Linked DNA regions of Homo sapiens: all the other regions are linked to region 1. The links come from fine-mapping of genetic effects on gene expression. A gene starts in region 1. Each other region holds a variant in brackets. All regions are shown on one strand. Distances are between the middles of the regions. Region 1 holds the start of ANKRD27 (ankyrin repeat domain 27). Region 2 overlaps SLC7A9 (solute carrier family 7 member 9). Region 3 overlaps ANKRD27 (ankyrin repeat domain 27).

Region 1 (8,179 bases):
GCGGGCTGATCACTTGAGATGGAGTTCAAGACCAGCCTGGCCAACATGGTGAAACCCTGTCTCTACTAAAAATACAAAAATTAGCCAGGCATGGGCACCTATAATCCCAGCCACTAGGGAGGCTGAGGCAGAAGAATCACTTGAACCTGGGAAGTGGAGGTTGCAGTGAGCCAAGATCACACCATTGCACTCCAGTCTGTGTAACGGAGTGAGACTCCATTTCAAAAAATGACAAAAAAAAATCTGTAATATGCCAGGTGCAGTGGCTCACACCTGTAATCTCAGCACTTTGGGAGGCTGAGGCTGACAGATGATTGAGCCCAGGAGTTCAAGACCAGCCTGAGCAACAAAGTGAGACCCTGTCTCTACAGGAAAATCAAAAAATTATCTATGGGTATGGTGGCACACACCCAGCCAGGGGAGGCTGAGGCCAGAGGATCACTTGAGCCCAAGAGGTCAAGGCTGCAATGAGTTATGACTGCACCACTGCACTCTAGCCTAGGCGACAGAGGAAGACCCTGTCTCCAAAAAAAAAAAGTAATAATCTCATATGATCTGGTGCTTAATGCCAGAGTTGAATTCTTACATAAGGGTAAATGCTTAAAAAAACAGTTTTATACCCTGTCAAGTTTACCTGCAAGAATTAGTTTGCTGGCTGGGCACAGTGGCTCACACCTGTAATCCCAGCATTTTGGGAGGCCAAAGCGGGTGGATCACTGGAGGTCAGGAGTTTCAGACCAGCCTGGCCAACATGGTAAAACCCCGTCTCTACTAAAAATACAATTAGCTGGTTGTGGTGGCCCACACCTATAATCCCAGCTACTTGGGAGGCTGAGGCACGAGAATCTCTTGAACCTGGGAGGTGGAGGTTGCAGTGAGCCGAGATCGGGCCACTGCACTCCAGCCTGGGCAACAGAGTGAGACCTATCTCAAAAACAAAACAAACAAAAGAATTAGTTTGCTATTTTAAAATAACATGCAAAGAAAATGGACTTTTTCTTGTAAAACTGGAAAGATAAGTGAATCTTCTTATAAAACTTCTTTTAAAAAATTCCATCCCTGCCTGGGCTCAAATGATGGGAAAATGTACAGAAAATCCAGTTGAGTTAGCTGGAGATACCAAATACCTCTAAATGTGAGTTATCTGCAGTTATTCTATGAACAGGAGAGCCATGTGAGGCCTCAAACTAGTATTTCAGGGAGCAGCGTGCACACTCGTGGTTTTGTGGTCTTCAACCGTCCTGCTAGCCCAGATAAGTCTGGGTGGTCAAGAACCGTCTGGTGACAGCGTGCAGCCCAGCTCAGCAGAATTCAGCATGGGGGAATTCAGCCTCCTTAGAGATGCACTCCCTGCTGAAATCTCACTGCGATGGCCGTTCCCGCCCTTCCGGGGCTCTGACCAAACACTCTGACCAGGAACGCTTCCCAACAGATAAGCAGTATTCTCCATTTGGTCTAATTTATGATTCAGAAGGAAAAGGCGAAAAACGAAAACTTTCTATTCATCTATTTTTCACACCAATGGAAGCAATGTGGTGATGTATGTATGCTGTTACAGTCACTTGTGTCCTCCTGACCTATAACATTTAGAGATCCTGTCCATATTCTTCTCAAAGCTTCTCATTAAAGCACCCAGCCCTGCGCCTGGTTCCCTGCAGAGATGGAGTAACTGCTCACCCACTTGAACAAAACGATAGTGGGGCATTAAGAGGAAGCCCCAGCTCCCAGGGAGAGGTCATCTCTCACAAGAGCTGGAACTCCACTGTCCATATCCAGGGTAGGTGAGGGGCTAACCCCAGGTCATAGCCAAGCAAGCACAAAGGCAAAAAGCCCAAAACAATCAGGATGCTCAGTGCCAGCCCAACACAGTGATAGCTGGAATGGGCAGGGCTAGAGAGAAGCCAGGACTGGAACCAGGGCGGGACCATGCAGGGAGCGGGAAAGTTTGGAGGAGCACAACAGCCCCTCCGAATGCCACCGCATCACCCTGTTCCCGGACCACAGGGAGAAGAACCACCATGCACCCTCCACCAGTATCTTGGGCAGATGGGCAGGAGCTCTAGGGCCGCTTCTCAGTGTTCCTCAGATGGAGAATCAACCTCAGGACAAATCAAGTCTGGATCCTTCTGGGCTGAATCCTTTCTAGGATTGGTACCTATCATGACATGGTCACATTCCTCCACTCCTCTATGAGAGGATGGAGTCATTGGACACCAACCTAATGCTGGCAAATGACAGACAGGAAGAGCCCCAGCAGGGCAGATGCCACAGAAACCTTAACTGGGACACAGAAACATCACTAACAAAGACCCAGCAGCTGTCTTGGTGAGGGAGACACAGTCTAACAGTCACAAAGAGGCACAACGGAGACCCTAACCCCCGGCCCTCTGCAGACACCTCTGCCTGCCCTCCCAGGGAAGCTGCCGGCCAAGATTATTTCAGGTCACCAGGCAAGACTGGGTGTAACTTGGGAATGTAAGTCTATCCAATGTCAGATCCCCAGGTGCATTCCTGTCCCTATGGCTGGTCAGAAGAAGTCTCTGCTCCTGCTCCCATCCTGCATCCCCTCCTTCCAAGGCCTACGGGCTGTGCCTCCTGGATCTGCCCCCTGGATTTCACTCACGCCTGTCCACCAGCAACACAACAAAGCGATCTTTCCAGCGCCGAGCTCTGCAGGATTCCTCAAAGGATTCCCCTGCACTCCCCACCAGGTGAGCCCTCAACTTCTCTGCTAGGTGCTCAGGACCTGGCACATCTGGCCTCTGGCCACCTTTGCAGCTTCCTCACCCTCTGCTGTCTCCAAAGCTTCCCCCGAAGGGAAAGAGTATTTTCCCTCTTTCCACCCATTTTGTCCTGAAAACTACTATCCCCCTGGGAACGACCCTATGTAGCGTGTGGGTGGCTGAGAACCCCCCTTCCACACAATGGTCAAGGCCAGGAGTACCCAAGCCCTGGCAGCAAACACCCAGCCTACTGCTCACCCAGTTAAAGGACGGACCCCTGGGTGACAGCAGGCCCCGGGGCTCAGTACACCGGACCCTTAGGCCACCTCAACACCAGTCCTCATGCCAGGCTGATCTCGAAACGTAACAGCTACTGCTCAGCAAAACGTGGTGGCTAGTGCCTGTAATCCCAACACCTTGGGAGGCCAAGACGAGAGCATGGCTTGAGTCCAGGAGTTCAAGACCAGCCTAGGCAACCTGCTAGACTCCATCTCTACAAAAAAAAAAAAAAAAAATTAAAAATTAGCCGTGCATAGTGGCATGCGCCTGTAGTCCCAGCTACTACAGAGGCTGAGGTGAAAGGATTGCTTGAGTCCAGGAGTTTGAGGCTGCAATGAGCTATGATGGCATCACTGCACTCCAGACTAGCCAACAGAGCCAGACCCTGTCTCAAAAAGAAAAAAACGAAAAGAAAGAAAAGAAAAAAAATATCCACTGCTCTACTCTTCGGCCAGTGGGAAGAGTGCATTTTTTAATCAAAATAGGGGCCTCTATCCATGAAACCCATCAACTTGTAAAATCTGAGCTCTCTGCAGCCTCACAGTCCCTCCAGCACTGCCAGCAGCCCTCGTTCCCTGCATGCTCTAAATCCTCAGCGAAGACCCGTCCCTTGCTCCCTCGCCCAGCACAGGCCGCGAGTGCCCACGTCCCCTGCACCTCGTGGGGCAGCCAAGGGGGCACCGCGTGGCTCGTGTGCTCCTGGGCAGTCCATTTTCAACCACAAGACGGAACAGACTCAGAATCCGGAACATCTCTCGGTGCTTAAGAGTTTTCCTTTAACAATCTTTACCTGTGGGAATGCAGAGACCCCCCCGCCCTGCGAGAGGCCGGCAGCCAGGGATTCCCCGCTCCGCGCCCTCATCACCCCCCGGAAACCACAACCGCTGCGCGCGCGGCTCGGACCCCCACCCGCCGCTCCCCTCCAGCAGACCCTAGGCCTCCGGGAAACCGCGCGGCGACCGCCCCGCGCCCCGCCAGATCCGAACCGCCGGACCCGGCACCCCGGCCACACCCGCCGGTGTCGACGCAGCGAGGCTCGGAGGGTGCATTCTCCGCGCCGACCGCTCCCCTCCTCCAGACCCGAGGGGCGGAGTGGGCAGGGCGCGCCGGCTGCGCACCGGGCACCCACCTGGGGACGCGGGGGCTGGGGCGGCGCGGGGCCACCTGGCGGACCCGGGAGCGGACTCCGGAGAGCAGGGAGCCCCTCCCCCCTCACTCTCCGGGCCCCGCCCGGCCGCCGCGCCCCGAGGCGCAGCCATCCCGCGGGAGGGGAGGCGCAGGAGGAGGCCAGCGCGAGGACACTTACTTAAAAGGCTACATCGCTTCATTCCCAGCCCATCCTGGGCGACGGCGGCACCTCCCTCGTCCGCTGCTGGGACCTCGATGCCCACCACCCTCGCGCGGCGATCTGGCCCTATAGCCCACCCCTTACTCCGCCGTGGGGCGGAGCCGCGCCACAGCTGACCCAATGAGAAACCGTCGTTTCCCAGAGTGACGTGTACGCAGAGCAATCATGGAGTCCAGCCCAGCCGGGGGCGGGGCTCAGGCGGCTCCCTACGCTTCCTACTCCAGCTGGCCCCGCCCCACGCCCGCAACTGCGCGTGCCCAGAACGTGAGGGGCGGGGCTGGGAGCCGGGCTGACACTAGAGGTGGGGTTAGCGCTTGGAAGCACCGACCAACGTGAGCGCAACGCGGCAGGGACACCTGACCCCGGCGGCGCCCAGCCCCTCGGATTGCCAGTCACTGCTCGCTTTGGGGCACGGAGGTGCCCAGTCCTGCGGGGCACCCGACGTCCTGTCGCCGACAGGGTCCGGGAGTCAGTATAGCTGGGTTCTAGTCCCATCACAGGCAAAAACTCCGCGGGAGCCTGGCCCGCTTTTTACCTGGGCCTCAGTTTCCCCATCCGTAAAATAGAACGGGTTGGATCTCCCGAGCGCTAACATTCCAGAACTCGGATGGGGCGAAGGGGAGGGAGGGATGGGCCACCCACACGTGACCTCCCCGCGTGGAGCCCCGCCTACCACTGATCCAGGGGGTGGCAGCTCCGGCCGGGACGAGCGGGGTGGGCGGGTCCTAGGAAACCCTACCCGGCCGCCCTTGGCAGCGCCTAAGGCGGAGCGCGCGGCTCTGCAGCCTGCTTGCCCCGGAGTTGGCACCCACGGAGGATGGGGACCGCACCCTCAGCTTCGCAGGGAGCCACCGTGGAGGCCAGGGCGGTGCAGAGACACGACGTGTGACTCGGAGTGCGCCTGGGGAGGATGGACGAGGGAGCGGGGGACCGCTAACGGGGCTCCCTCTGCGCGCCCCGTCCGCAGAGGCGCACGTCGAGGGTCCCGGGCGGGCTCCGTGGACGTTGGCGGTAGCGCCGAGCGAGTCACGGACCATGAAGAGCGTTCGTGCCGCGCGGCCCAAGGCCGGGATGGGGGTTAGCCACATCCTGCCGCGCTGAGGGGGAGGCTAACGGGCGCGGGCGGCCGGGCCCAGCCGGAGCCCACCGCGATGGCGAGGGAGGAGTGCAAGGCGCTGCTGGACGGGCTCAACAAGACGACTGCGTGCTACCACCACCTGGTGCTGACCGTCGGTGGCTCGGCGGACTCGCAGAACCTGCGGCAGGAGCTGCAAAAGACGCGCCAGAAGGCGCAGGAGCTGGCGGTGTCCACCTGCGCCCGGCTGACTGCTGTGCTGCGCGACCGGGGCCTGGCCGCCGACGAGCGCGCCGAGTTCGAGCGGCTCTGGGTGGCCTTCTCGGGCTGCCTGGACCTGCTGGAAGCGGACATGCGACGCGCGCTGGAGCTGGGCGCCGCGTTCCCGCTGCACGCGCCGCGGCGGCCGCTGGTGCGCACAGGTGTGGCTGGCGCCTCCTCCGGCGTGGCGGCGCGCGCGCTGAGCACCCGCAGCCTGCGGCTCGAGGCGGAGGGCGACTTCGACGTCGCGGACCTGCGGGAGCTGGAGCGCGAGGTCCTTCAGGTGGGCGAGATGATCGACAACATGGAGATGAAGGTCAACGTGCCCCGCTGGACCGTGCAAGCCCGGCAGGCGGCGGGCGCCGAGCTCCTGTCCACGGTCAGCGCCGGCCCCTCCTCGGTCGTGTCCTTGCAGGAGCGCGGGGGGGGTTGCGACCCCAGGAAGGCCCTGGCCGCCATCCTTTTCGGCGCCGTGCTGCTGGCGGCTGTGGCCCTAGCCGTGTGCGTGGCGAAGCTGAGCTGACGGACACCCGACGGCCGCCTGCTGCTGCCGCTCCCTCCCCTGAGAAAAGACTCGGGATGGGTGTGGGGTCTGGCCTGTGCAAGGGGAGTGGTCCTAAAACCCCGTGTGTGCATGGGTACACGCGCGTTTCCAGTGCACATCTGCCTGGGCAGGACACGGTTTCCTCTTGCTGGCCCGGGAGGAGTTAACTTTGCGCCGGCCGTCAGGGCATTACCGCTAACGTCTGCAGGAGCTTTATTCCCTATTAATAGAAAACCGTCACAGTGACCCTAGATCCCTCCGAGTTAATGAGTTAACACATGTGCTGTTGGGGCGTCTTTACAGGGAGTCCGAGTTCGGTGCCCACCCCTGCCAGCGTCGCCCCCTTTCTGCGTGGGACAGTTTGAAAAGGTGGGTGGGGTGGAGTGAAGTTTGGAGAGGGACGCTGTTTGGTTCTATGTGGTTGGTCTGTTTCCCGGACAAGAAAAATTGCAATCAAATGTCAGCAGCTTTTATTACCTTAATCTTTCAGGGCCTAAATTTAGGAGAGTGTCCCGAGAGCAGTTCATACAAAGGGCTTTCTCTAAGACGCGCTACAGCCCTTCCTAGCAGAGTTTATCCATTCGTCCCCAAGAGCAGCTAGAAGAGATTTGAGGTCATGACCTCCCACTGCCGCTCAGGGGCTGACCCTATTTAGGAAACCAAAGAGGGTGGGTTGAACCTACTCTCACGGACTTGGATCCAGTGCGCACACTTGCCTGCGGAAAAGGGCTCTCCCCAGCCACCCGGAGATGGGGGTAAGAGGAAGAGCAGAGGCTTGGGGTAGGGCCACCTGGTGTTTAAACAGGCACTTTCTCCTTCTCTGGGGCTTATTTTTGTTCAGAACTAGACCAGAGTGTTTGAACCTCCTTTGCAGGAGGGCTGGGAATCCTCTTTAGAGCACTTAATCCTATTTATCCCCTGGAATGTGCGTGCTGGCCAGTAGGAGGGCTGGCTTTGGCAGCTCCCTGACCCCCGCGCTGCCCGCCCCTCCGGGGTAATGTGGCATTACTGGCCCACAGAGGTTTTGAGCCAATCAGCTCTGAGACTGGGTTAGAATGTAACAGCTTTAACTTGGGATTTAAGAAGCTTTTAAAAGGTAATAATACTCTGAAAGAAAAATGACGTAACCACAGCGTGTACTATGAAAGCTGTTATTTTAATAAAGAACGCTGGGCCATGAACTCATACCTGCCAATGAGTCAAACATAGTATCTTTATGTAGATACTTAGATTACTAAATATATATTTCATCTACTTCTGAAGTTGATAGTCTTCCCCCCCCCCCACTTTTTTCTTTTTTGAGACAGGGTCTCCCTCTGTCACCCAGGCTGGAGTGCAATGGTGTGATTGTGGCTCACTGCAGCCTCCAAATCTCGGGCTCAAACTATCCTCCTACTTCAGCCTCCTGAGTAGCTGGAACTACAGGTGTGTGCCACCGCACCTGGCTAATGTTTTTAAGGCAGTTAATTTATTTATTTATTTTTATTTTTCTTTAGAGATAGGATCTTGTGGTGTCGCCCAGGCTGGAGTGCAGGGGCGCAATCAGCAAACCACAGCCTTGAACTCCTGGGCTCAAGCTCTCCTCCCACCTCACCCTCCCAAGTAGCTGGGACTAAAGGTGTGCATCACGGCACTCAACTAATTTTTTGTAGAGACAGAGTTGGGCTATGTTGCCCAGGCTGGTCTCAAACTCCTGGCCTCAAGTGGTCCTCCCACCTAGGCCTCCCAAAGTACTGGGACTACAGGCATAAGCTACTATGCTCAGTCTAAAATCAATATTCTTTATTTTTTTCTATAATTTCACTGCAAAATAAAATCTATATTCTTGAGTAGCCACACAAGTGTAAATGACAGAATGTTAAGTGGCCTTTAATTCTTTTGATCAACAAGTAAGAAAATGCTTGGTCCTTGGTCCCAGGATGACATCTGCCTGAGCAGTGCTGCCAAAT
Region 2 (8,180 bases), 180 kb after region 1:
CTCATAGGTGGGAATTGAACAATGAGAACACATGGACACAGGAAGGGGAACATCACACTCCGGGGACTGTTGTGGGGTGGGGGGAGCGGGGAGGGATAGCATTAGGAGATATACCTAACGTTAAAATGACGAGTTAATGGGTGCAGCACACCAACATGGCACATGTATACATATGTAACAAACCTGCACATTGTGCACATGTACCCTAAAACTTAAAGTGTAATAATAATAAAATTAAAAAAAAAGAAGAATTGATATCAGGCCAGCCACTGTGCCTTACACCTGTAATCCCAGCACTTTGGGAGGTTGAAGTGGGTGGATTGCTTGAGGCCGGGAGTTTGAGACCAGCTTGGGCAACATAGTAAGACCTCACATCTACAAAAAACTTAATATTAGCCATGCATGGTGGCACGTGCCTGTGGTCCCAGCTACTTGAGAGGCTGAGGTGGGAGGATCACTTAAGCACAGGGAGGGGTCTGAGGCTGCAGTGAGCCATGATTGCACCACCACACTCCAGCCTGGGCGACAGCGAGACCCTGTCTCAAAACGACGAACAAAAACCCTAAATCAAGACTTGATATCATAAAGGTCACATACTCTAATTACAGTGCAGTAAAATTAGAAGTCAATACAAATGCCACAAAGACCCATCTATTTACAACTACATATCTTAACTTTGAATTGATATGAACTTGATATTAATTCCCAAAAGAAGTGAAACCAGGAGGATGGGAGTTGATTAATGGAAGGGAGATTTAGACACAAGGTGAATACTGTCAAATCTTTTTATCAGTCCTCCAGAAATTAATATAGAAATTCCATAAAATCAGAATGCAAGCAGTACTTTTGGAACCGGACAAAATAATTCTAAGTGTATAGGGAATGCTAAACAGACAAGGAGAAGTCTGACGTGGGAGCGTTAGTCCTGCCAGATTTTACAAGACCAAAGCTATAAACTTTTTTTTTTTTTTTTTTTTTTTTGAGAGACGGAGTCTCGCTCTGTCACCCAGGCTGGAGTGCAATGGTGCAATCTCGGCTCACTGCAACCTCCGTCCCCCAGGTTCAAGCCATTCTCCTGCCTCAGCCTCCTGAGTAGCTGGGATTATAGGCGCCCACCACGTCCGGCTAATTTTTGTACTTTTAGTAGAGACAGGGTTTCACCATGTTGGCCAGGCTGGTCTTGAACTCCTGACTTTAAGTGATCCACCCACTTCGGCCTTCCAAAGTGCTGGGATTACAGGCGTGAGCCACCACGCCTGGCCCATGTCATTCCATTTAGATGAAATGTCAAGAAAAAGCAGTTATAGAGACAGAAGTAGATTAGTGGTTGCCTGGAGCTGCGGGTGAAAGCAGGGATTAATTAGGCAATGAGGAAACTTTTTGGGGTGATGGAAATGATCTAGAATTGGATTGTGATGTTTGTACAGCCTTATAAATTTATGAAAATAATTGAGTTGTATAATTACAAAGGGTGAGTTTTATATTTGTACCTTAATTAGAACTGTTAAAATTGTGTTTGTGTATACTAGCAATAAACTATCAGAAACTAAAAATTAAGCAACTTTTTTTTAACAGTACCATTTACAATAGTATGAAAAATGAAATTCTTTGGAATAAATTTGACAAAAGATGTGCAAGAACTATATACCAAAAACTACTCAAAAAACTTTTTTTTACAGAAAATTAAGCCAGGCCCAGTGGCTCACGCCTGTAATCCCAACACTTTGGGAGGCTGAGGCAGGTGGATCACTTGAGGCCAGGAGTTTAAGACCAACCTGGGCAACATGGTGAAACCCTGTCTCTACTAAAAATACAAAAATTAGCCAGGTGTGATGGTATATGCCTGTAATCCCAGCTACTTGGGAGGCTGAGGCATGAGAATCGCTTGAACCTGGGAGGCAGATGTTGCAGTGAGCCAGGATCGTGTCACTGCATTCCAGCCTGGGTGACAAAGCAAGATCCTGTCTCAAAAAAAAAAAAAAAAAAACACCAACAAACAAAAAAGTTGTTAAAACAAGATTAAAGACCTAAATAGTCCACCCATGGATTGGAAGACTCAGTATTTTTTTTTTTTTTGGAGACAAGGTCTCACTCTGTCTCCCAGGCTGGAGTGCAGTGCAGTGGTGCAATCTCAGCTCACTGCAGCCTCGACCTCCTGGGCTCACACGATCCTCCCACCTCAGTCTCCTGAGTAGCTGGGACCACAGGCATGTGCCACCATGCCTGGCTAAGTCTATTGTACTTTTTGTAGACATGGGGTCTCACTATGTTGCCTAGGCTGGTCTCTAACCCATGGGCTCAAGCAGTCCTCCCCCTCGGCCTCCCAAAGTGCTTTGATTACAGGTGTGAGCCACCGTACCCATGCTGGAAGACTCAGTACTTTTAAGACAGCAGAGTCTTCCCCCAGTTGATCTATGGATTCAACCCAGTCCTGATCAAAATCCCAACAGCTTTACTATAGAAACTGGCAAGCTGATTGTAATATTCATATGCAAGTGGGAAAGCTGCCAGAATGAAATTGGACCCTTATCTCACCCCTTAGACAAGAAATCTACTCAAAATGGATATAAGACTTGAAACTGTAAAATTCCTAGGAGAAAACAGGCAAGCTCTGTAACATTGGTCTGGGCAATGATTTTTTGTTGTTGTTGTTTTTGAGACGGAGTATCTCACTGTGTCGCCCAGGCTGGAGTGCACTGGTGCGATCTCGGCTCACTGCAACCTCTGCTTCCCGGGTCAAGCAATTCTCCTGCCTCAGCCTCCTGAGTAGCTGGAATTACAGGCATCTGCCACCATGCCCCACTAATTTTTGTATTTTTAGTAGAGACAGGGTTTCACCATGTTGGCCAGTTTGGTCTCGAACTCCTGACCTCATGTGATCCACCCACCTCGGCCTCCCAAAGTGCTGGGATTACAGGCGTGAGCCACTGCACCTGGCCTTGGGTATATATTTGAATGAATTGAAATCATATGCCAGATACCTGCACTCCTATGTACCTCTGGGTATATATTTGAATGAATTGAAATCCACATGTCAGGTGTCTGCACTCCCATGTTCATTACAACGTTATTCACCACAGCCAAGACATGGACACAACCTAAGTGTCCATCACAGATGAATGAATAAAAATAATGTAATAGATACACAATGGAATACTATTCCGACTCTAAAGAGAATGGAATTCTGTCATCTTTTGACAACAGAGATGACTCTAGAGAACATTATGCTAAGTGAAATAAGCCAGACACAGAAAGACAAATATCCCATGATCTCCCTTATGTATTATGGAGTCCTAATTAGGGAAAATGAGTCAGGCTGGTGGGACCAAGGGAAAGCCAAAAGAGATAAGACAGATAAGCTACAAGCCCGCCTTTCTTCATGGTCCAGGACACATAGCCCCCCTGCACAAATAACTTACAAGCTTCCTGTGCCCAGTGATCGCCAGTCCCTCAGCTAATAGAAAAATGCAGCCGGGCGCGGTGGCTCACGCCTGTAATCCCAGCACTTTGGGAGGCCAAGGCGGGCGGATCACGAGGTCAGGAGATCAAGACCATCCTGGCAAACACGGTGAAACCCCATCTC[T/C]ACTAAAAATACAAAAAAAAATTAGCCGGGCGTGATGGCAGGCACCTGTAGTCCCAGCTACTCAGGAGGCTGAGGCAGGAGAATGGCGTGAACCTGGGAGGTGGAGCTTGCAGTGAGCCGAGATCATGCCACTGCACTCCAGCCTGGGTGACAGAGCAAGACTCCGTCTCAAAAAAAAAAATAGAAAAATGCAAGTTAGCTCACTGCAACCTTGGCATTATCAGTACTGCACGTACCCCTGTCCAGCACACAGCACAAGCACCATCCTACAAAATCCCCAGCAAGCCTTTGTCTCTTTGCAGTCAGTTCCTCTCTTGCTGACCTGCTCATTGCACCCTTGCAATGTATTTTCCTACTTTCTGTAATAAATCTGCCTTTCCTGACCTACAGCTGTCTTGGTAAATTCTTCTTATCCCTGTACCACCAGCCCAGATAGTTGTAATCATCTGCAACATACATGAAATCTAAAAATTCAAACATAGCAATAGAGAGTAGAATGCTGGTTACCAGAGGCTGAAGGAAGAGGGGCCTGGGATGGCAAAAGGGGAAATGTTGGTCAAAGGCTACAGAGTTTCAGTATGATGGGAGGAATAAGCTCTGGTGATCTACTGCACAGCAAGGTGACTATTGTTAGTAATAGTGTATATTTCAAAATAGCTAGTGGTTTTTTTTTTTTTTTCTGAGACGGAGTCTTGCTCTGTTGCCCAGGCTGGAGTGCAGTGGCGTGATCTTGGCTCACTGTAAGCTCTGCCTCCTGGGTTCACGCCATTCTCCTTCCTCAGCCTCCCAAGTAGCTAGGACTACAGGCGCCCGCCACCACGCACAGCTAATTTTTGGTAATTTTAGTAGAGATAGGGTTTCACCATGTTAGGCAAGATGGTCTCGATCTCCTGACCTCGTGATCTGCCCGCCTCGGCCTCCCAAAGTGCTGGGATTACAGGCGTGAGCCACCATGCCCAGCCAGTGAATTTTTAATGTTCTCAGCATAAAGAAGTATGTGAGGTGATACATATGCCATTCCACAATGTTTACATGTATTGAAACATCACACTGTACCACATACATATATGCAATTATTGTTGTTATTTTTTAGAGGCAGGGTCTTACTCTGTTACCCAGGCAGGAGTGCAGTGGTGTGATCGTGGCCCACTGCAGCCTGGAACTTCTGGGCTTCTGGAACTACAGGCATGGGCCTCTACACCCAGCTAATTTTTAAATTTCTTTTTGTAGAGACGGAGTCTCACCATGTGGCCCAGACTAGTCTCGAACTCCTGGCCTCAAGCAATCCTCCTGCCTCAGCCCATATAAGCAATTATTATTTGTCAATTTAAAATAAGGCGGCCGGGTGTGGTGGCTCACACCTGTAATCCCAACACTTTGGGAGGCTGAGGCAGGTGGATCACGAGGTCAGGAGTTCAAGACCAGCTTGGCCAAGATGGTGAAACTCCGTCTCTACTAAAAATACAAAAATTAGCCAGGCATGATGGCAGGTGCCTGTAATCCCAGCTACTCCAGAGGCTGAGGCAGAAAATTGCTTGAACTAGGGAGGCGGAGACTGCAGTGAGGCGAGATCACACCACTGCACTCCAGCCTGGGTGACAGAGCAAGACTCCATCTCAAAAATAATATAAGGCTGGGCACGATAGCTCATGCCTGTAATTCCAGGGCTTTGGGAAGTGGAGGCAGGAGGATCACTTGAGCCAGGAGTTCGAAATGGGCCTGGGCAACATGGTGAAACCCCATCTTGACTAAGAATACAAAAGTTAGCTGGGTGTGATGGCACGTGCCTGTGGTCCCAGCTATTCCAGAGGCTGAGGAGGGAGGATTGCTTGAGCCCAGGAGGTAGAGGCTACAGTGAGCCAAGATCATGCCAGTGTGCTCCAGCCTGGGCGACAGAGTGAGACCTTGCCTCAAAATTAATTAGTTAATTAAAATTTAAATTTAAAATTTATAAAGAAATACAAAGGATCTAGCCAAAACGCTTTTGACAAAGAATGAAGTTGGAGGCCTAGCACTACATGTATTTCGGTTTGGCTTTAGAAGAATGATTTTATGGTATTTCATTTTTTAACATACACAGACTTTGTCAATTTCACTCTGAAATATATCCATTCAGAACACTGGACAACTAAGCCAAGACACGTGTTCGAGGATGTTCACTGCGGCAACGTTCATGGAAACCACCCACACCCAGGTGTGAGTGAAGGATTTGTTAAGTTATGCTACATCTGAAAGTGTGATACAACACAGCTGGTGGCAGTCTCTAGACCAGATGGGTCTAAAGGATTGGCAAACCACAGCTGTTTGGGCAAATAAAGTTTTATTGGAACATGACCATGGCTGTTCACTCTTGGGTACCAAGGCAGAGTTGAGAATCTGTGACAGAGGTTTATGCAGCCTGCGAGCCTGGAATATTTACCATCTGGCCCTTTAAGGGAAAGTTAGCCAATTCTGGGTTATTTATTAATTTGCTAATTAGCAAATTAGTTTGTATATATTAACATGGGGAAGATGTTCAGGAAATATCACTATGTGAAAAATATCACTAGGTGAAAAGGTAAAAAGTGCCACGTGGAAAACCAGTGCCTCATTCACGCGGTGTCGCTTCCCTTCGCCTCAGCATGGGCAGCTTCCCCCCCATGTTGGGAACTAGGGCCCCCTGGAGTGGAAAGGCTGAGATTCCAGGCAGCCTTGATCAATTCCCGTGTGCAGGCCCATCCATGCCTTCCTGGCCAGTTTGCGGTGTGGGTTCAAGCTACATCCCTTCTCTGGATTTGGGTCTCCTACTTGTACTGGCGTGGGTTTCGCCTGGCAGAACCCTGAGGATTTTAGCTGTGTGTCTTCCTCGGGGGTGATATTGCTTTCGCCGCCCCTGTCCACCCTGGGAGTGACGGTGGGGGTCCCCTACCTGCCCGCTGTGAAGCAGGTCCCGTTAGCAGCACCGATGGTTGAAAATGCCACAAAAAGTGGAACGATCCAAGAAGCAGGATAGAGAACACGGTCACCAAATGTCTGGTGAGAGAAGCGAGATGAGTCCTGAGGGTCTTTCTTGGCCTCCAAGAGCGGCCGGCCCCCAAAAGCTATTCTGGCCTCCCAGGGGACCCAGGGACCCACCTCGCCTCGGGGCACAGCCTCTGACTCCTCCACTGCAGAGGAGAGAGGAGAACGCCACTCGCCTATCTCCAGATATTGTGATGGCAAGAGAAGTCTCTTATCTACTACTCCCTGGCATAAATCTTTATTTATTTATTTATTTATTTATTTATTTATTTCTGAGATGGAGCTTTGCTCTTATTGCCCAGGCTGGAGTGCAATGTTGCTGTCTCGGCTCACTGCAACCTCTGCCTCCCAGGGTCAAGCGATGCTCGTGCCTCAGCCTCCCAAGTAGCTGGGATTACAGGCGCATGCCACCACATTCAGCTAATTTTTGTATTTTTAGTAGAGACGGGATTTCACCACGTTGGCCAGGCTGGTCTCAATCTCCTGACCTTGCGATCCACCCATCTCGGCCTCCCAAAGTGCTGGGATTACAGGCATGAGCCACCATGCCTGGCCAAATCTTTATTTTTTAATTTGATTTTTTTTGGAGACAGGATCTTGCTCTGTCGCCCAGGCTGGAGTGTAGTGGCGTGATCACGTCTCACTGTAGCCTCAATCTCCTGGGCTCAAGTGATCCTTGCCTCAGTCTTCTAAGTAGCTGAGACCACAGGCACTCGCCACCACACCCAGCTGCGTAATTCTTGGTCATTTCAATATCCTGACACCTTCACCTCTCACTTCCCTGAACCCCCACTCCAACCGGAATGGCTGAATTCTCCCTCCCACCTCAGCAGCCCCCAGTCTTGTGGTCAGTGACCTCAACACTTATCCAAACTGCGTCTCCTCCACCTTCCAAATCCCCAACACGTGGTTGTCTGTTTGCAACTGCAGGAGGCCCCCAGCCACCTCTTCACTGACCCCAATGCCTCTCACCTCTCACCTTCTATGATTCATTATTATTTAGGGTGGTGCAAAAGTAATTGCCAGTTTTGCCAAAAATATATATATTTTTTAATATATAATGACCTAATATAATGACCTCCCCCGACTCCCTGGCACTTTCTGCCTCTGCTTCATGCTTGCCTGCCGAACCCTCACCCTGGCTAGCCCGGCCCTGCCTCCAGCTCCATGCCGTGCGTGCCCAGTCCATGTCCCCGTCCGTGAATATCGCCCTCCTTCCCTGGGAGGGAGCTCACCTCCAGTGCTGACACCTGCCTTACCCCTTCCCACAAGCCACAGCCCCCGCCAGCAGCGATGCCCGGGCACTCACCACAGCCACCGCCTGGGACTGCAGGAGTTCGGTGGCAGTCATCACGGTGAAGTAGGACACGTTCATGAGGATGTAGCACGCCGTCACCAGGGGGATCCCGATGATAATGGCCAAAGGCAGGTTTCTGGGAGGGGCAATGACACGGAGACCCACGTTCAGACCACAGCCTCCCGCGGAAGATGGACGCCCTCCCTGAGGCCCTCCCAGGGAGAAGATTCGCAGGTAGCAGAGGCCCAGCAGGAACATAAGACATTTTCAAATGAGAATGCTGCCTCTCTCAGACTCCAG
Region 3 (8,180 bases), 78 kb before region 1:
TTTTCCTTCTAACAGGACCCTCAGCTGCAGGTCTGTTGGAGTTTGCTAGAGGTCCACTCCAGACCCTGTTTGCCTGGGTATCAGCAGTGGTGTTTGCAGAACAGCGGTTTTTCATGAACCGCGAATGCTGTTGTCTGATCATTCCTCAGGAAGTTTTGTCTCAGAGTACCTGGCCGTGTGAAGTGTCAGTCTGCCCCTACTGGGGGGTGCCTCCCAGTTAGGCGGGTCAGGAGTCAGGGATCCACTTGAGGAGGCAGTCTGCCCATTCTCAGATCTCCAGCTGCGTGCTGGGAGAACCACTGCTCTCTTCAAAGCTGTCAGACAGGGACATTTAAGTCTGCAGAGGTTACCGCTGTCTTTTTGTTTGTCTGTGCCCTGCCCCCAGAGGTGGAGCCTACTGAGGCAGGCAGGCCTCCTTGAGCTGTGGTGGGCTCCACCCAGTTCGAGCTTCCAGGCTGCTTTGTTTACCTAAGCAAGCCTGGGCAATGGCGGGCGCCCCTCCCCCAGCCTCGCTGCCGCCTTGCAGTCAGCGAGACTCTGTGGGCGTAGGACCCTCCGAGCCAGGTGCGGGATATAATCTGGTGCGCCGTTTTTTAAGCCCGTTGGAAAAGGCGCAGTATTTGGGTGGGAGTGACCCGATTTTCCAGGTGCCGTCTGTCACCCCTTTCTTTGACTAGGAAAGGGAACTCCCTGACCCCTTGTGCTTCCCGAGTGAGGCAATGCCTCGCCCTGCTTCGGCTAGCGCACGGTGGGCTGCACCCACTGACCTGCACCGTCTGGCACTCCCTAGTGAGATGAACCCGGTACCTCAGATGGAAATGCTGAAATCACCCATCTTCTGCGTTGCTCACGCTGGGAGCTGTAGACCAGAGCTGTTCCTATTCGGCCATCTTGGCTCCTCCCTGACCAAAAGCTTTTAAGCACGTGTACCAGCATGACTCTACCCTTTGCAACTGTGCCATGAATATTAGATAGGAAAAGTGTCCGTGGCGGAAACAGAAGCTGCTCCAGCACTCTTCAGGAAGAAAAATATAGCAGCAGCAGCAGCAGCCGCCAATAACATAAGGGGAATTAAAACCTGTCCATCAGACTGAATCAGGTTCAACATTTGAGCACATCTAATATTCTAAGATGTAGATTCTGAAAGCAGGTAAGCTCTTTCTCTTCCTGCAGATACTACTTCCACTTAATGTAAGAAAATTCCTAGCTTTGCCAGGCACAGTGGCTAACACCTGTGATCCCAGCACTTTGGGAGGCTGAGGCTGGCAGGTCATTTGAGGTCGGGAGTTTGAGACCAGCCTGGCCAACATGGTGAAACCCTGTCTCTACTAAAAATATAAAAATTAGCTGGGCGTGGTGGCACACACCTGTAATCCCAGCTACTTGGGAGGCTCGAACCTGGTAGGCAGAGGTTGCAGTGAGCTGAGATCAGGCCATTGCACTCCAACCTGGGTGATTCCATCTCAAAGAAAAAAAAAAGCTAGCTTTGATCTCATTTATAATTGTTTTTCAGAGGTACTGATATTAACAAATACCACTCCCTCCAAAATAACTAGAGTGATAATGACTGAAAAAGAAAATGACCAAAATAGACATGTTGGTAATGCTACTACAGTAATAAACATGTTTGTAAGAGAAATGACTTCTAATGATTTCAAATCCAGTTGAGACACTTCAGCATTTAAACATTTTGGTAACATATCACTGATAATGTTGCAGGTGACTTAAATGTTCTCTCTTTTGTTGTGCTTTCTTTCCACTAGGTTATGAAAACCTGCACTCATAAGTTACGGTTTTCAGAGACGGAGACTTGCTGTGTTGCTGAGGCTGGCCTCAAACTCCTGAGTTTAACTGATCTTCCCACCTCAGCCTCCCTCGTAGCTGAGACTGTAGGTGCAAGCCACTGCTCATATATTTAAATCATAAACTTAACCATCAACCAGCTGTTTGGTGTAACCTTTTAAATGTCGTAGTCCTGTGAGACCTAGCACAGGATTAAATTCATAAATTTAACAAGGTGAATAGGATTAGTAAAAAAATGAAGGGAAATGTGGTTTGCAAACCCCAGTCTCTGCGTTAGCCAGCATACTACTGATACATGTTTAAACTGGAGATTCTACTATATTTGAAATTTGCAACTATTGTCAGTGAAGAAATAGAACAATATCTAACATTATAAATAAGTAGAACCGTTGAGAACATCAACATATTTTTAAAAGAATGATCATAAGATGAAATCTGGCTGGGGATTTTCTGTCAGGGTAAACTGGTAATTTAAAAAAAATTTGGTCGGGGATTTTGAAAAAAATCCCATTTACAGGTAAATTTTGCTTTAGGCCTCATTTACATACAAATGCTAGGAGGACATGAGGCAGTTCACAAGTTCTGTGCTTTCTCACAGGATAACCACTGTCCTAATGGCAACTGCTGTGAGTGTGTTTAAAGATGGTCAGACTCTTTCAGACACCTACCTGAGAGTGAAAAGTGGTTCCATGTACAAGGAGAGAGGTTCCTGATGGCAATAAGAGGCTGGAGTACATTTTAGGGAGTGGAGAGTGGTTATTCTAAACTTTCTAATTTAAATCAGTGAACTTGCGTTACTTTGAATTCAAAACTTTTTTCCACAAAAATGGAAATTAGGGGCATTAATTTCTCAACTGTCACATCAAGTTTTGGGTAGGGAAAGCAATTGGAAAAAACAACTGGTTGTTTGCTTTTTTTTGAGATGGAGTATTGCTCTGTTGCCAGGCTGGAGTGCAGTGGCATGATCTTGGCTCACTGCAACCTCTCTCCCAGGTTCAAGCAATTCTCCTGCCTCAGCATCCCAAGTAGCTGGGATTACAAGCGCACGCCACCACACCCAGCTAATTTTTGTACTTTTAGTATAGACAGGGTTTCACCATGTTGGCCAGGATGACAACTGTTTTTTAAAAATAATCGAGGGAGTCACTTAAGATGGAAAACATTACTGATGACCAGAATAGCTCAAAAAGAAACAGCATTTACCTCTCCAGAGGAAGGGTACACCAAGCTTGCAGCTGCCACTGCCAACCAGGCCTTGATCCTGGCTGTGAGATCCCTCGCAGTCCCCTTATTTTTCTGAACCTGTTTCCTCATTTGACAATTCTACCATTCACAGTGATTGTTGAAATTAAATGGGTATATGTGAAAATGTTTTCAGCTGGGCGCAGTCGCTCATGCCTGCAATCCCAGCACTTCGGGAGGCCAATGTGGGCAGATCACTTGAGGTCAGGAGTTCAAGACCAGCCTGGCCAACATGGTGAAACCCCATCTCTACCAAAGATATAAAAATTAGCCAGGCATGGATGGTGGCAGGTACCTGTAATCCCAGCTATGCGGGAGGCTGAGGCAGGAGAATTGCTTGAATCTGGGAGGCAGAGGCTGCAGTGAGCCGAGATGGTGCCACTGCACTCCAGCCTGGGTGACAGAGCGAGACTCCATCATCTCAAGAAAATGTTTTCAAAATTATATTGCACTACCCCAACATATTAGGTGGTGTCAAATGTGTGTATTTGTATCTTGAGAATACCTGTGCTGATAAACTGTATAGGATGTATTAATTAGGATGGTATAGAACCACAGCAGCTTCAGTCTATAAGGTGGTTTTGTTTAAAAGTAGGGAAGGCTGGGCATGGTGGCTCACACCTGTAATCCCAGCACTTTGGGAGGCCGAGGCGGGCGGATCACGAGGTCAGGAGATTGAGACCATCCTGGCTAACACGGTGAAAAACCCTGTCTCTACTAAAAATACAAAAACAAAAAAACAAAAACAAAAAAAACACTAGCCGGGCATGGTGGTGGGTTCCTATAGTCCCAGCTACTCAGGAGGCTGAGGCAGAAGAATTGCTTGAACCTGGGAGGCGGAGGCTGCAGTGAGCCGAGATGGTGCCACTGCACTCCAGCCTGGGTGACAGAGCGAGACTCCATCTCAAAAAAAAAAAAAAAAGGGAAAAGGAAAAATCAGAACAAAGAAATTAGCAAAGCAACAGGGCTCATTTCCTGTTTGTTTGGGGTAGGAAGCTGTATTCATTTTATTCTTCTGATTTCCAAAGAAAAACATTTTTGTGGGCCCGGGACACTGTGCCTACTGGGTTAAGTAGGCCTTGGTCAGTAGATGAATAATGAGCTAAGTGATCAAGTTCCCATGTTTCAATCTCACATCTATAACTGAAAAATGTATATCCATTCAATGGGGACCCTTTTTCTCACACACAAAGCACATGTTTACAGCAGACAGGCTGAGAAACATATCATCTGCAGCCAAACAACTAAAAAAAAATACCATGACACAGTCAAGAATCATAAAGTTTACTGTTTCTTTTCCATCATTTGGCACATATCCAAGGCACATTAGAAAATTAGAAATCATAAATTACTTTGTAGAAAAATAATCCCTCCCTTCCTTCTGTACATACACAAGT[A/G]TTTCCAAGAACATGGACAAAACCATTTCCCTATCACAAGGTCATTTGAAAACGGACTCAGGACAAACCCATATACGTGTAGCTCTAGGCCAATAACATAAAAATAACAGTATAATCTATAGAAATTTATAAAAAGGAATAAATGGCAATAAATTCTAACCGAAAGTAACTCTGACCTGGTTTGTGCTGTTAAGTTTTGAATTTGAATCAAAAGACTAAGAAAAGATGTGCCAAATCTACTCTCTAATCCAGTAACCATCCCGTCAGGTGTGAGTGTGACAGACATTCAAGGGAGGTTCTCAACAAAAAGGGATGTTTCTAGAAATACTGCTACAGGTGCACGTGTAGTAACCGAATATCTGTACCTACTTGTTAGAAGGAAAATGATAACCACCCTTTCCCATGTGCATGATGTGGAACAGGTCTGATGCATCCTTTCACTAAAATGAATATCAAAATGGGATTGAGGCATCTTTTGGTTCGAGTGTTGCTTTGCAAAGAAACATTGTCCAGCTGCTGCTTTCTTCCTTCAGATATGACATTTCAGCCTGGCCTCTACAGTACCATGAAACCTAAATTACTTACTTCTCTCCAGCTTAATCCTAGGTGGAGGAATTCTAGCTGTGGTTTGTGAATGTACACAGGTCAGAGAGGTTTAGCACCTTTTGGGAGGAGGAGGTCAGAATGCGGTGGTGAAACCTCTCCCACTGTGACCAACAAACCCTCATACTTAAAAAGAAGCATGCACCTCTGGCTTAAGGATCTGGATGCTACTGGAATTTTTGTCTGTTTCAATTGTATTCATTAGCTTTGAAGAGGAGAGAGATGGTGGTGGTTAACTTTTTTGTTGCATTCTTTCCTGCCACAGAAAAGCTTTCAGGAACTTGGTGCTGAAGACTTCTCAAGCCAGTCTCATGGAAGCACATTTAGTTCTCAGATGTGTTCACGCTCAGCATCATCTTGTTGCATCCTTGCTTCCTAGCAGTGGGTTCAACAACTCCTCATTCCTGTTAGGACCGGGAAGCACTAACCTCTTGGGGAGTGGAGAGGGGGCCAGCAGCCTCCGGGCCCTGGGACACGACCGCATCCTCTACCGTGTGTCTCCGCAGCATCCGTCTGTGTCCAGGGCCAGTCTGTGTCAGTCCAGGCCTCTCTGGCCAGTCGCTGTTGCCTTTCTCAGCAGCATGAGATCCACTCTGAGCTGGCAGGTTATTCTGTCTCAGTGTGACACTTTGCCTCCCTGGCTAAAGAAAAAGTACATTTTTAACCGTTGACGTCCTCACTGTACTGGAAGCCACAACCATGACAGTGACAGCTGCCCCTTAGTGCCTAGTGTCACATAATGTGCTCAGTGCTTGACAGGCATAATTTCAATTCTCACATCCCTGTCGTGGTAACATGGCATGTGCATACTACATGTGTCAGAGTAAATGTTTCACTTGTTTTCACAATCTTTATGACTCTAGGAGGCATGTACTACTATTGTTATCCCCGTTTTACACCTGAGGAAACAGGATCAGCAAAGTTAAGCCACCTGCCTAAAGTCCTACAGCTAGCAAGGGAAAAGCTAGCACTTGATGGAACTCAGGCAGATTTCAACGATTCTGGCTTTCCCACAAAGCAGCAGGTCTCCTAGCAACACCACATAAGACTAAATATGGTATCAAAATTAGTCATGTTAATTAAAATCATTTTAATTATCTAAAACAATTTAGAACTTTTGTGTATTTGTTCCAACAAGCCTATGCTACATATGCTATAAATTCTCATCAGCAACAAGGAAAGCTGTGGTTCTGAGAAGAATCACTGTCTCCGATCACAGGTTTTCAATCAAGCTTCTGAGTGATTTAAAAATGCAGTAGGGTCCGGGCACGGTGGCTCACACTTGTAATCCCAGCACACTGGGAGGCCAAAGCGGGCAGATCACTTGAGGTCAGGAGTTCAAGACCAGCCTGGCCAACGTGGTGAAACTGCGTCTCTACTAAAAATACAAAAAAATTAGCCAGGAATAGTGGCACATGCCTGTAATCCCAGCTACTCAGGAGGCTGAGGCGGGAGAATGCTTGAACCCGGGAGGTGGAGACTGCAGTGAGCCGAGATCGTGCCACTGCACTCCAGCCTGGGCCACAGAGCAAGACTCTGTCTCAAATAAATAAATAAAAAAATGTAGTGGGAAGATGGCCACATAAAGAATTGTCTGAGCAACTGTACACCATACTTGGAGACATCATTTACCCATCTATATACAAACTGTCGTTTTCTTTCTTTGGTGATTAAAACCATAGTGAAATGTGGGATGTTTCATCTCCTATAAGCACCAAGACCTGTGGTTTCCCACACATGTAACACTTTCCACTCCTCTGCTCAGAAATGTACTTTTAGTTATAACAATCAGTGAAGTCTGTACTCTACACTGTCCCATGAAATAATTCCAGTTTTAACTGCTGCTAACTCATACGGCGCACGGAATAATGAAGATGACGATCAAGGAGACGTGTTTACCATGGATTACTTTTGACAAAGCCGGGCTTTAGAAAATATGATTAAAAGCCAGTGTTTAATAACTTACCTCATGCAAAGAACCTTCGGTTAAATTAGGGACACTTCTATCTCTTGCCATAATCTCCCTTGAAGTCTTTCCCCTAAAACCCAAAATAAACGAAAATAAATATTTGGGACAGTGGCATGAAACACTCTGGTTGGCCACAAGGTGGCAGCATTTTTGACATTAGTAGGTGCAGATTTGTCCATAACCAATTACAATTGAAGCAGCTTACGTGCAGCTTGGAGTAAACTAGGGGCAAAAGCACAGAAATCAACTTGAGTTTCATACTCACTTAAACTGACCAGCTGAGTGGACAAAGTAAAACTGTCTTGTAAAAGGCTCATCTGGTAGATCATACAGTTTTGAGTTCCCTGTAGATAAAAAGATAAACATCTAAAAACTTCAAAAACAGTTGTAAAGATTATTTTAAAATTACAGCACAGACACAATCTTTCTATTCTCAGATTTACAAAATTTAGAAACTGAAGCACTGAATTTGCTTAAAGAAACACAGCTAGTACCTATTTATAACAGGTTGAGTATCTCCAATCCAAAAATCTAAAGCCTAAAATGCCACAGGCTGGGTGCAGTGGCTCATGCCTGTAATCCCAGCAGTTTGGGAGGCCGAGGTGGGCATATCACTTGAGGTCAGGAGTTCAAGACCAGCCTGGGCAACATGGAGAAACCCCATCTCTACCCAAAATACAAAAACTTAGCCAGGCGTGGTGGCACGCACCTATAATCCCAGCTACTCAAGAGGCTGAGGCAGGAGACTCGCTTGAACCCAGGAGGCAGAGGTTGCAGTGAGCCGAGATTGCACCACCACACTCCAGCCTGGGCGACAGAGCAAGACTCCATCTCAAAAAAAAGCTACAAAATCCGAGACATTTTGAACTCTTTGACTTCATGCTCAGAAGAATCTGATTTCCTGATTTGGATCCTCAACCAATGAGTATAATGCAAATATTCCAAAACCCAAAACACTGCTGGTCCCAAGCATTTGAGATAGGGGGTAGTCAGCCTGTATTATGAGAACCCCCATGAAATAGAAAAATAAAACCTTAACTCCCTTAACTCCCCCAGCCACAACCAATTACGGTGAGACAGTCTCAGGGTTATCGAGATATGTGAATGGGTTTATCCATATTATTGTATTGCATTATTGCATACCTCACTGGATAATATTTCATATT

Evidence for each region.
Region 2: its variant is fine-mapped to the expression of ANKRD27 in whole blood (INTERVAL, PIP above 0.99).
Region 3: its variant is fine-mapped to the expression of ANKRD27 in whole blood (TOPMed, PIP above 0.99). The same link has a PIP of 0.9 or more in blood mononuclear cells.

The regions. Positions count from the first base shown.
Region 1 is chr19:32,670,763-32,678,941 of GRCh38, forward strand. ANKRD27 (ankyrin repeat domain 27) reads right to left here and starts at 4,418. Exons shown (of 29, transcript NM_032139.3): 1 at 4,309-4,418. RGS9BP (regulator of G protein signaling 9 binding protein) reads left to right here and starts at 5,086. Exons shown (of 1, transcript NM_207391.3): 1 at 5,086-7,538. The coding sequence starts at 5,502. The coding sequence ends at 6,209. RefSeq lists silencers at 3,903-3,952, 3,973-4,702, 5,273-5,332 and enhancers at 4,346-4,965, 4,853-4,962, 5,733-5,782.
Region 2 is chr19:32,851,949-32,860,128 of GRCh38, forward strand. SLC7A9 (solute carrier family 7 member 9) reads right to left here. Exons shown (of 13, transcript NM_014270.5): 8 at 7,893-8,016; 9 at 6,492-6,595. Among named protein-coding and RNA genes, the nearest start is that of SLC7A9, 14 kb to the right of the region's middle. The variant T/C (reference allele first, on the strand shown) is at 3,584.
Region 3 is chr19:32,592,693-32,600,872 of GRCh38, forward strand. It overlaps ANKRD27 (ankyrin repeat domain 27), which reads right to left. Exons shown (of 29, transcript NM_032139.3): 27 at 7,280-7,358; 28 at 7,012-7,084; 29 at 4,314-5,686. The coding sequence ends at 5,453. Among named protein-coding and RNA genes, the nearest start is that of SNORA68B, 12 kb to the right of the region's middle. RefSeq lists enhancers at 5-506, 297-1,496, 507-1,006. The variant A/G (reference allele first, on the strand shown) is at 4,443.